Regions from separate parts of the Homo sapiens genome. Here regions 2, 3 and 4 are each linked to region 1. The links come from fine-mapping of genetic effects on gene expression. Tissue or cell type: whole blood. Region 1 holds a variant in brackets; each other region holds the start of a gene. Each region is shown on its reference strand, or each on the opposite one.

Region 1 (2,681 bases):
TGTTGCCTAGGCTAGAGTGTAGTGGCATGTTCATAGCTCACTGCAGCCTTGATCTCCTAGGCTCAAGCCATCCTGTCACCTCAGCCTCCTGAGTAGCTGGGACGACAGGTGCATGCCACCATGCCTGGCTAATTTTGTAGAGATGGAGTTTCTCCCTGTTGCCCAGGCTGGTCTTGAACTCCTGGGCTCCAGTGATCCTCCTGCCTTGACCTCCCAAAGTGCTGGGATTACAGGCGAGAGCCACTGTGCCTGTCACCAACTCAGTCTTATTCATCAGTATGTCTTCTCCTTAAGCGGAGATGCTAACAATGTAGCATCTCCTGTGCTGAATTCCTGTAAAGTGAGGGTTTTTGTTTTTCCTACATCCATCTTCCTCTCCAGATTCCCTCTCAATTTCCAAGGTATTTAGCGTAAATGCAATATCTGAACTTCATTTATTTGGCAGATTTGTGTGGACTGCCTTTTCTGAACCTATTTGGGTGCTAAGGACTGTATGGATTTGGGTTCTTAACATGGAAAACGTCTGTGCCTGCGTAGTGTTGGGTCCTACCTGGCCACTTGGCTCTCAACACGGAGTGATGATGCCTAGGGTGTTTTGACGTGGGCAGTCAGCCCAGCCTGGAGAACTGAGGGGAGCATTTCTTTCTTTTTTTTTTTTTTCTTTTTTCTTTTTTTGGTGAGACGGAGATTTACTCTTGTTGCCCGGGCTGGAATGCAATGGCGCGATCTCGGCTCACTGCATCTTCTGCCTCCCAGGTTCAAGCGATCTCCTGCCTCAGCCTCCCGAGTAGCTGAGATTACAGGCATGTATTACCATGCCCGGCTAATTTTGTATTTTTAGTAGAGACGGGGTTTCACTGTGTTGTCCAAACTGATCTTGAACTCCTGACCTCAGGTGATCCTCCTGCCCCGGCCTCCCAAAGTGCTGGGATTACAGGTGTGAGCCACAGCGCCTGGCCGGGAGCATTTCAAATGATAGTTAGGACTTCCTTTTACTGTACTTAATAGCTGAAGGGGGCCAAAAGTGTCCATGTTTGCTGCCCTCTGGCATCAAAATGAGGTCCTTTTTAGTAGTGCTGCATTTAAAACAGCATTAAGAATACGTTTTTAGAACTTAGCTTTTTGCATTGAGGATGCGCAGGTGGCTGAGACTAACTTCTTTGCAGATGACCATGGTTGAAAGTCAGCTATAGAGTTGCACAACCACGTAGTTGGGCTTCACATATAGAAGATGTTGTCATTTTTTGGTAACTCTGTCAGACTTTACCAACCTGGCGCACAGTCTGGTTGGCACATAAACTTCACATTTGCTCTTCTCCAGGGTGTGGGGTGGCTGTTTAAAGAGGGTGGATATTCATGCTAATCTTTGTGTAGCATAACATGTTACTGCAACTTGCTTTTTTTTTTTTATCTGAAAGTTCAAGTAGATATCAGAAGGGAA[A/C]TGTTTGTGGGTGCTAAGAAGGTTAAAATTACCATTTTGAACAGAAATGATATTTGGAAAAATAACTTCCCTTTTAGGAAGGTAAATCAGTCATTTATATGCTATTTGTTGAATTCCTAGAATATATGAATATCATGTCACATGCTGTGCTGGTACTTTCAAATATAATAGAAGCAAGTAGGAGAAAGAGTCCCTGTATTGAAGAAACTCATTGGGAACACATGAAATTAATTAGAGGCATAGAGGGTTAACCAGCAATGTAAGGCCTAGATATGAGTCAGGGAGTGGTGCATGGGATGAGTGTTCTATGAGGTTGGAGAAGGATGAGATTGATTCTTCTTGCTAAGGTGACTAGGTAGACCTTCATTGAGGCCTTGAAGTATGAGCAGGATTCCAGGAGGTAAGAGAAGAAGAAGAAAAGCCAGGAAGGAAATGAGAACGGAAGGGATTTTTACTTGGGCAGAATATTTTCCTTGATGGGTACGGGGAACTAAGACTGGAATAGAAAATTGGAGTTGGATTGTGGAGCTCTGGAATGATGGCTTAAGGAGTTGGACCATATCCTATAGATCACAGAGGGCTGCTGAAATACTCTGATCAGAAGACAAAGGCAGCATGCTAGGGGATGTTAAGTGAGGACTCTGCAAAGGGGGTGGATGAGTTGTTGAAATTCTCTGTTATACCCTTCATGCCGAGTTCTCCCCTGTTGACTTATATGTTCTAGAGGATGGAGTTGGTTGACCGTAGGGTTTCCTTTCACTAGCAGAATGGAACCAGATATTGTAGGAGCCTAGCACATGGGTCTGTTACTAATATAGAGGACTGTTTAAATCTTGGAAAGCTTTCCTTTTGCCTTTGCCCCCATTGCAGATGGGGAGTGGGCAGGAATGACGTTCAGAATCAAGGGCCCATCAGGGTCTGTATTGGTCCCTTGTCCCTCTCCTCCAGTCCATCCATGTTGGGATACTCAGGGCATGGATGGTGTTTCATGATAGCATTTATCATTTTGATGATATGTGACAAAATAAGGCAGGCATCAAAATTCATATCCCTGTGATCTCTCTTTAATAGTGTCCTCCTGCTTTGGGGGTTATTAAGCTAGCCTGAACTTGAGTAAACATTTTTGGATGGGGTGAGAGGGGGGCTGATAAAAGTGGTTAGTAAATAGACAGTTGGAAAGGAGAACGGCCCGGGGGCTCAGGAGATGAGCCAGGGAACAAGGAAAGCAGAGATGCTAGTG
Region 2 (2,681 bases), not on the chromosome of region 1:
CCTGCAGTGGGTTAGGGGGTTACCCGGCCTGGTTTGTGTCTGTCCCACATTCAATGCCAGGTGGGCCCAGAATTGCCCCGGGGGTCTCCGGTTGGTGTGAATGTGGGTCACCGTGGCCCCCACCTTTCCCATCTGGCAGATATGTGTCTTGTGCCTACGTCACGCCAGGCCAACCCAGCAAGCACGGGCCAGGCTGGAGGCCCCAGACTCTCCAGGGGGCTGTCTGGTCCTTGCACAAAACTGCAGACACTGCACGGACTGTCCCCATCCCCCAATTAAACAGCCAGCAGGACCAAGCTGGGCCGGGCGATTCCCCCGGTCACTCCAGACACCCCCACCCCCACTCCCCCAGGAAGTGGATCTTTCCTTTCAACTCTTAGATTCTTGGCGAGGGATCTGTCTGTCCCCACACTTCACTGTTACCCCTGAATAAGGAGCAGGAAGAGAATGGCACAGTTTTGGGGTTTTCTGATTTTTGTTTTGTTTCCTGTTCGTTGGGTTTTAAAATCTTTAGCAGCTCTTTTGCCGCTCAAGGTCTGTCCCCTCTGGAGGGCCACTAGTGTGCCCAGAGCTGCCCACGCTACGCAACATCACAGCACGGCGGCGCCCAGCCTGTTGCTGCGTCCCAGTGGCAGGAGCCTCCTCACAGGGCTGCCGAGCTCACGCGGGGCGGATGCCGCGCGCCACAAGCCTCCTTGAAGACTAAGTGTGGAAAAGAAAATATCAACGCCCACGAGATGCAGGGGGCGGGGGGAAGGTGGGGGAAACGAACCCTCGCGGATAGTTGGAAAGCCGTCCTAACGCATCAGTCCTGGGGCAGAGCGAGGAGACTGGGCCCGGGAACTCCCGGACAGAGAGCCCTGGCTCCCCGGGCGCGCCCTGCAGGTCCCCTGCCGAGGACGGGCCGGCGCCGGGTGGTCCGGGAGCGCGGTGCGCGGGGGTCCTCAAGAGCCCACCCGCTTCCTCCTAGGCTGCTGGAGTCCCCCGGGCTCCCCTCCCCCGCCGCCCGCCACATCTGGTTCCACTCAGGTCCTCCCCCACCTCTAGGCGCGCTCCTCCTCCCCTCTCCTCCCCCGCTTTCAGAAAAGCGGAGACGAGTTTTAAAAACCCAGTCACACACACACGCACACACGCTTCTGGAGAAAAGAGGGGGGAAAAGGAGGGAAAAGTCGAGAGCGGCCCGCGCCTCGGCGCTCCCCCCGCCCGGGCCCTGAAGTTGGCCAAGTTGGCAGCGCCTTACCCGGGAGGGCGGCGTCCCCAGGGGCGCCGGGACGGCCGAGGTGCAGGCACCCGAGGAGCAGGACGCAGCGCAGCAGGTGACGAGGCCAGGGCGCGGGGGCCGGCCGGCCGGGCCCCATCCCCGAGCGCGGCGCTCAGTGGACGCGGGGACCGAGGGCGCACAGGCGCAACGCGCTGTGGCAGCCCCGAGGCTGGGCTGTGATGACCGCCCGCAAGGGGCTCGCGTCCTCCTCCGGGTCGGGACGAAGTGATGCCTCCCGGGGAGGAGGAGGGAGGAGGCAGCCCGGGCGGAGGGAGGGCGGAGGGAGGAGCGCAGAACCGGGGAGGAGGGTTCGAGGGGTAGAGGGGAAGGGAAGTGGGCAGCGTGGGAGGGGAAGGGGAGGAGGCGCGGGTCTGGGGCTAGAGCGTCGGGAGGGAGAGAAAGGGGTGGCGGAGAGGAGGACACGCCGGGTCCAGGAGGACCCCAGCGTGCGCCCTTTCTCTTGCTGCTCTGTTTCCCAGTCTCTCCCCGCCTCGCCTTCCCTCTCTTCTGTCCCGGCCAGGATCCCCAGACGCTGCGTCACAACTCCCCCGCTGGCGCGGGCGGGGAAGCAACTGCAAAACTTTCCGCAAACTTCACGGCGTGGTGGGACCTGGGCTACGAGGTCCGGCCAGCCCGGGGCGGGGGCGTGCAGCTGACCCAGGTGGCCAGACCCGGGCCGCCAGCATCCGCCCCGCCATCCCGCCTCTTTCTGCGGGCGTCTCCAGCAGCCTAGCATCCCCTACCTCCATGCCGAGGAGGACCCCTCCCCCGGTCTGGTGGGGAAGGGGCGGAGCCCAGGGCCTGGCCACCAGGGCGAAGATTGGGGGAGGGGGAGGCAGAGCCCTTGTTACGTGTGCGGAGCGCAACAATTCTTGCACGTCTTGTTTTAGCATTTTCGTGACCCCTGTGTCAGTGTTCCCGGTGCAGGAGTGTAGCACTTTTGCTTGTTGGGGCTGCATCCAGAAACCTGGGGAAAATCTGTCCACTGGACGTCTCAGAAGACCGGCATCATCACTCCCACCAACTGGACTGCTGGCCGGTAGCAAAAGACCAGCTGGAAATTTCATAAAAGGTTAGACAATCCACAGTTACTCAGTGTTACGCAACAGGTCTCTGCAGCACAGAGCACGAACTGGGGAGTCAGGATGCTGGAGTCCAGCCCTGCCTCTCTGCGGATTCCCTGCCTGACCTTGGGAAAGCCTCTTGGGGTCTCGGGGCATAGGGCAGGACTGAGACGTTGAGACCCCAAGTGCAAAGAAGACACATTTCTCCTACCACGAGTAATCAAAAACACTATGAAACTGTAATATGGGCCGGGTGCGGTGGCTCACGCCTGTAATCACACTTTCGGAGGCCGAGGAGATTGAGCCCAGGAGTTGAAGACCAGCCTGGGCAACATAGGCAGATCCCATCTCATTTT
Region 3 (2,681 bases), not on the chromosome of region 1:
CTACCTGCTTCTCAGCAGCCAGGACTCCCCTTGGAGGTCACTGCTCAGAGTGACCAGGTGGGGTCTGGAGGCAGCAAGAATCAGCCTGGGTTGGAGAAGCAGCTGACAGCTTGACAGCACTGATGTCCTGGGGTCAGCCTGGGTTATGGGGAGACCCCCATTTACCACGGCTCATCACCCTTCCCCCACACCCTGGCTGGGACACCTGAATCTCAGCCTCGGGTGGGCTGTGGGACTTTGCCCAGCCTCCTTTCAGATCCGGTCCTGGAGGACACGGGCGTCTGACTCTGCTGCCCAGGCCTCACGTCCCACCCACTTCCAGGACTACAGGATCAGTGCTTTGCTTCTCCCGGTACACACTAGTAACCACAAGCCCCACGGAGGCCCCTCCCTTCTGGCTCCCATCACCCAGGTGCGCTTCCAGGGAGCACCCAGGCTCGCCAGGGCATCTGCCCCAGTACTGGCAAGCCAGGGAGCCCATTCACTTGAGGGCCTCTGGAAGGAGCTCCGTGCAGGGTTCAGCTGGGCCAGGAGGTGCCAAACCCCACCCATCCTTGAGCCCCGGGGGACTCTGGGCCAGGACTCTGTCCTGAGGAGGAAGCCTCAGTGCCCCTGGCGAACCGCGCGGACCCACCTGCACTCTGCAGCCGCCCTGCGACAGCAGCCACTGCAGGCAGGCGAGGTGGCCGGTGGCGGAGGCGTCGTGGGCCGGTGTGGCGCCGTTGCGGGCGCGGGCCGCGGCGGGGAGGGCGGCTTCCTCCACCAGGAAGCGCAGACAGTGCAGCTTCCCAGCGCGGGCCGCGTGGTGCACGGGCAGCGCGTCCAGCGGGTCGCGCAGCGAGGGCCCCAGGAGGCCTGCGGCGTGCAGCGACCTCAGCACGTCCAGCTCGCCCTGCCGCGCCGCCTGCAGCGCCTGCTCCAGGGCCATGGTGCCGCGTGCGGCGCCGCGACTCCGCACTCAGCGCCTTCCCCAGGACGCCATGCACGTGTTCTTGCGGGCCAGAGGAGCCCGCGGTGCGGCCGTCGGGGATCTGCGGGCCGGGAGGCGGAGCGGCTGTGGGCCTGGCCTCCGCTCCGCGCTGCCTGGCGCTCCGCTCCGCCGCGCTCTGGGGCCGGAGCCCGCGGACGCCGGCTTAAGACTCGGGCCCGCCCCCACCCCGCCCCGCCCCGCCCCGCAGCCTCCGCCCGAGTTCCCCGCCCGCCCCCGCCGCGACGCGGGGACACTCGTGCGACTGGGGCAAGGTGCCCAGGGGCTTCTCTCCTAATTTGCCTCACGTAACAGTTGAGACCCCAGAGGGCAGCAAAACTGGGTTCGAATTGGAGAGCCGTCCAGGCACAGACAAATTCATTCATCTGCCCAGTGCCCGCTAACTGCGGTTCCAGGCGCCGGCGACGCAATTCCAGAGGTGATGGGGAGTGATTGTCGGGACCGCGTGGGCGGACAGGGAAAGGTCTCTGAGGAGGTGCCGTGGGGCTGGGTTTGAGCGGCGAGAAGGGTATTCCAGGCGGGGTGAGGAGCACGAGGACAACGGCCCTGAGGCAGGAGCAGCCCTGCCACGTCCCTGAAGGGCTCTGGGTCGAAATCCCCGGAGATTGCAAAGAGCCCTGCCTTCCAGGGTCCCTCCAGATCCGAGAACTGCCCCCAGAGGTTCCAGCGGGGAGGGCAGGAAGGCAGGACGGGAACCACTAGTGCGCTGGGAACGCCATGGCCTCAGGCCGCCCGCAGCCGCTGTCGGTGTGGAGGGGCTTCCAGCCACACAGAAGGCAGGGATGGGTGGGAGGTTAGGGCTTGTGGGGAGACGCGGGAGCGCCGGCATCCAGAGAGAGGGGGCTGAGACCCCTGCAGGGGCTCAGGAAAGTGCCAGAGGGCGCGGGCAGGAGAGCGAATGTGTGCCAAGCCACCCTGCAGGCTCCACTGAACACCAGCCGTGGGAGCGGCTAGTGCCCAAAGGACGCGAGGAAAAGCTGACAGAAGGTGGGAGCTACATGGCTGTGGGAGTGCAGGCGGCCTATCAGCGATCTTGAAGCACCCTGTGCCCTTCCTGTCCCAACACCCACCCCCTCTGGAGTCCCGTGGGGGCTTGGCCCCACCCCGGGCTGAAGGTTTCACTCCGCCCCAGCCCCAGCCTGGCACAGTCAGCACTGGAAATGCTGTAGAATGAAGGAAGCCCCTTCCAGGAACAGTGGGAGTCATAGTGCTAAACTCATAGTGCTAAACTCGGCAGCTGCCTCCGGTCCTTTCCCTGGGCCTGCCACCTAGTGGCGACCTGCGTGATGGCCTCCCGCGCTCCCAGGTGCCCAGGTAACTGGAGCTGCTGGGCTGTGCCTAGCCAGGTGGGTTTCCAACGACTTCCACCAGGCCAGATCGCCCTCACTCTCTCCATGGGACCTGTGGCCGCTGGAATCTGGGACGCTTGCCCAGTGGTTTGCAGACAAAAGGAAGGAGGAGTCATTTCCTCGCAGCCTCGCTGCTGGAGCTGGTGGCCAAAGCAACAGGCTCACTGCGGCTGGCGCTGCCCTCCTCTGGGTGCCCAGAGGCAGGTGTGCCGTGAGGCCAGCAAGTGGCAGGGGTACTGTTGGGAGGAGGTGCTAAAATGGCTTGTCTTGGGCACCCCTCCCCTGGGCCTCCTCCATTCCAAAAGGCCCTGCAATTTGTGTTCTCCACTCCTAAGGTGGCCACC
Region 4 (2,681 bases), not on the chromosome of region 1:
CTGCCAAAATGAATGATCTCCACTTCTAGCCACTTCTGACTCAAGCTGCCCTTCTAGGTTTAGACCACTCTCCCCAGTGAAAGATCAACAAGACGGGCTCCTGGGAAATGCCAAAGAGGCTTTGTTGCCTTGGGTTCAGGGGTCAAAGGTCTAGGCTGTTCCTTAAGTCTTTTTGATGTCTTTTTTTAACATTTTTGGACCCAAGGGTGGGTTTGGCTTAGCTCCATACTCCACGTTTGCTTGCCATTTGAACTTCAGAGATGAAAGGCAGATCCCATAGCACTTAAGAGATTTTCCAGAACACTAGCTGGTCAGGGCAGAGCTAAACCTAAACGCAGGCCATCTACTTCCTACTGCTGAGCTAGTGCCCTCTGGAAGCATTGGCATATGGTGGTGGCCTCTGCTGCCCTGGCTAACTTGAGTCAGGGTCAGGGTCTTCCTACCTGTAACCCCTTCATCCCCACCCCAGGCACTGAAGCCCCACCATCTGTTTATGAGGCGGGTGGCCACAGAGATAGGCTGATGGTGAGGGGGTTTCACACACTGCGGTAACTAAGGCCTGAGCCCCACCCACTCTCCACCCCTGCGCTTAGTCCCACTTGACAGATAGAAGATCCTATTGTCCCTGAGCACTGTTAAGGGCTGAACTTTGTCCTCCAAAATCCATGTTGATGTCCTAACACCTAGTACCTCAGAACGTGACTGTATTTGGAGATAGGGTCTTTAAAGAGGTATTAAGGGTAAACGCAGTCATTAGGGTGGGCCCTACTCCAATATGACTAGCGTCCTTATAAGAAGAGGAAATGTGGATGTGGACACAGCCACACGCTGAGGGAAGACCCATGTGAAGACACAGAGAGAAGGCAGCCATCTGCAAGCCAAGGAGAGAGGCCTCCGAAGCAACCAAGTCTGCCAACACCTTGATCTTGGACTTCCAGCCTCCAGAATAGTGAGAAAATAAATTTCTGTTGTTTAAGCCCCCTGTACTTTGTCATGGCCGCTTTAGTAGACTCATGCGGGCACTTGCTGTAGACGCTGACCCCCTTGACCCTCCCTCGCTGCCCCTGCATTCTCCTCCACACACCCCTGAGCCCCAGCCCCAGATTCATCAAGTCCTTAGAGTCAGGAGAGTGGGCTCCATAAATCTGCAGCTACATTTTCCCATTTCAGGGCCTTTGAGGAGTGCTGGTTTGTGCTTCAAAGTGGGCCAGGGAAGGATAAACTGCCTTTGGAGCATTTGAGAGATTGAGGAGAGAACAGGAATCACCCAGAAAACAGACTGACGAATATTTTGAGTTAGAATCCTGCCACCCATGACAAGTCAGCTCCCACCCCTCCAGAGTCTCCAGCTAGAGCACTTGCAGTAAGAGTTCAGTGGGCCTTTCCAGGCAGCCAGGCATGTGCTGCCCTCCGGATTCATTAACAGGGTTTCTTGGGGTCAGAGGAGGTGCCAAAGCCCTGAGAGAAGCCAAGCCCCAGAGGACTCCCAAGTTCTCCCCGCAGACTCATATTCCTCTTGTAGGTGGGAAAGGGACGGAGAGGTGCAGGGGGAACGCCCTGTTCCACATGCCGTATTTACTCTGGGCATGGCTAATGACTCCAGGGCCTTATCATTCGGCCCTCAGACTGGGCTGGGCAGGTCTGAGAGTTAGGGAAAGTCCGTTCCCACTGCCCTCGGGGAGAGAAGAAAGGAGGGGGCAAGGGAGAAGCTGCTGGTCGGACTCACAATGAAAACGCTCCTTCTTTTGCTGCTGGTGCTCCTGGAGCTGGGAGAGGCCCAAGGATCCCTTCACAGGTGAGAAGACGTCCCCGCACTGTGTTCAGCTGGGTAGTCCCATGCCCTGCAACTCAGGGCTGCTCTGGGGTAGGAAAGCTGATGGGGAGGTGAAGAGGAGGAGAAGCTGAGGGCTTGCGTCAATGCATGGAAGAGACTCATCCAGTGACCGCCTGTGTATGGCCTTAATCTCCAGTCCTCAACAAGTCATCCTCCTGCCTCCACCTCCACGGAGGTGCCTTCCCAAGTCCCAGGGGTCTTCTTGTGTTGCAAAAGAGCAGGAACCTGCAGTTGTGGTTTGTAGCTCAAAGCGCCCCAGGACTTCCCCAGGGGACTGACCATCACTGTCCCCAAGAGTTTTTCTGTCCCTTTAAATCAGCCCTTCGTGATGTTCATGTAAAACTGTAGACCGCCCCACATCTCCCATTTTCCTAGATCTCAAAGACCTCAGCTCCAGGAGGGGAGCCATTTCCACTCTAAGATTCTAAGACTCTATAGGGCAGAGATGAGGCCGGGCAGGCTGAGTGGCAGAGAGGACGCTGATCCCACCTGTATCCTGCGTGCTGTCTTGCAGATCCCCCCCTCCCACCCCATCTTCTCTAGTTGGCCCCTGAGAAAATGGGACGAGAATGGGGGGAAGAGGGAGGCAGAAGTACATCTCCTGCTTACATGGGGGTTTGTCTCCAGGGTGCCCCTCAGGAGGCATCCGTCCCTCAAGAAGAAGCTGCGGGCACGGAGCCAGCTCTCTGAGTTCTGGAAATCCCATAATTTGGACATGATCCAGTTCACCGAGTCCTGCTCAATGGACCAGAGTGCCAAGGAACCCCTCATCAACTACTTGGATGTGAGGCCTCCTGGGGTCAGGGCTGGGGAGAGGTGGGAGCGGGAGGAAGGCCCAGCATTAGGG

What was found. PIP is the estimated chance that this variant, and not a neighbour inherited with it, causes the effect. A credible set is the group of variants that fine-mapping cannot tell apart.
Region 2: it holds the start of MRC2, and the variant in region 1 is fine-mapped to the expression of MRC2 in whole blood (TOPMed, PIP 0.99).
Region 3: ESPN starts here. The variant in region 1 is fine-mapped to the expression of ESPN in whole blood (TOPMed, PIP above 0.99).
Region 4: it holds the start of CTSE, and the variant in region 1 is the best candidate, but not a certain one, in a credible set for the expression of CTSE in whole blood (TOPMed, PIP 0.60).

What each region holds. Positions count from the first base shown.
Region 1 is chr2:60,489,669-60,492,349 of GRCh38, reverse strand. All of the region lies in intron 2 of BCL11A (BCL11 transcription factor A), which reads left to right. Among named protein-coding and RNA genes, the nearest start is that of BCL11A, 63 kb to the left of the region's middle. The variant A/C (reference allele first, on the strand shown) is at 1,442.
Region 2 is chr17:62,626,480-62,629,160 of GRCh38, reverse strand. It overlaps MRC2 (mannose receptor C-type 2), which reads right to left and starts at 1,491. Exons shown (of 30, transcript NM_006039.5): 1 at 1,241-1,491. The coding sequence starts at 1,358. It overlaps LOC107985020 (a long non-coding RNA gene), which reads left to right and starts at 1,111. Exons shown (of 2, transcript XR_001752961.3): 1 at 1,111-1,316; 2 at 2,152-2,681. RefSeq lists silencers at 862-931, 1,132-1,571.
Region 3 is chr1:6,423,203-6,425,883 of GRCh38, reverse strand. ESPN (espin) reads right to left here and starts at 1,108. Exons shown (of 13, transcript NM_031475.3): 1 at 635-1,108. The coding sequence starts at 928. RefSeq lists silencers at 929-978, 1,009-1,168 and enhancers at 1,165-1,778, 1,779-2,393.
Region 4 is chr1:206,022,838-206,025,518 of GRCh38, reverse strand. CTSE (cathepsin E) reads left to right here and starts at 1,624. Exons shown (of 9, transcript NM_001910.4): 1 at 1,624-1,795; 2 at 2,462-2,618. The coding sequence starts at 1,728.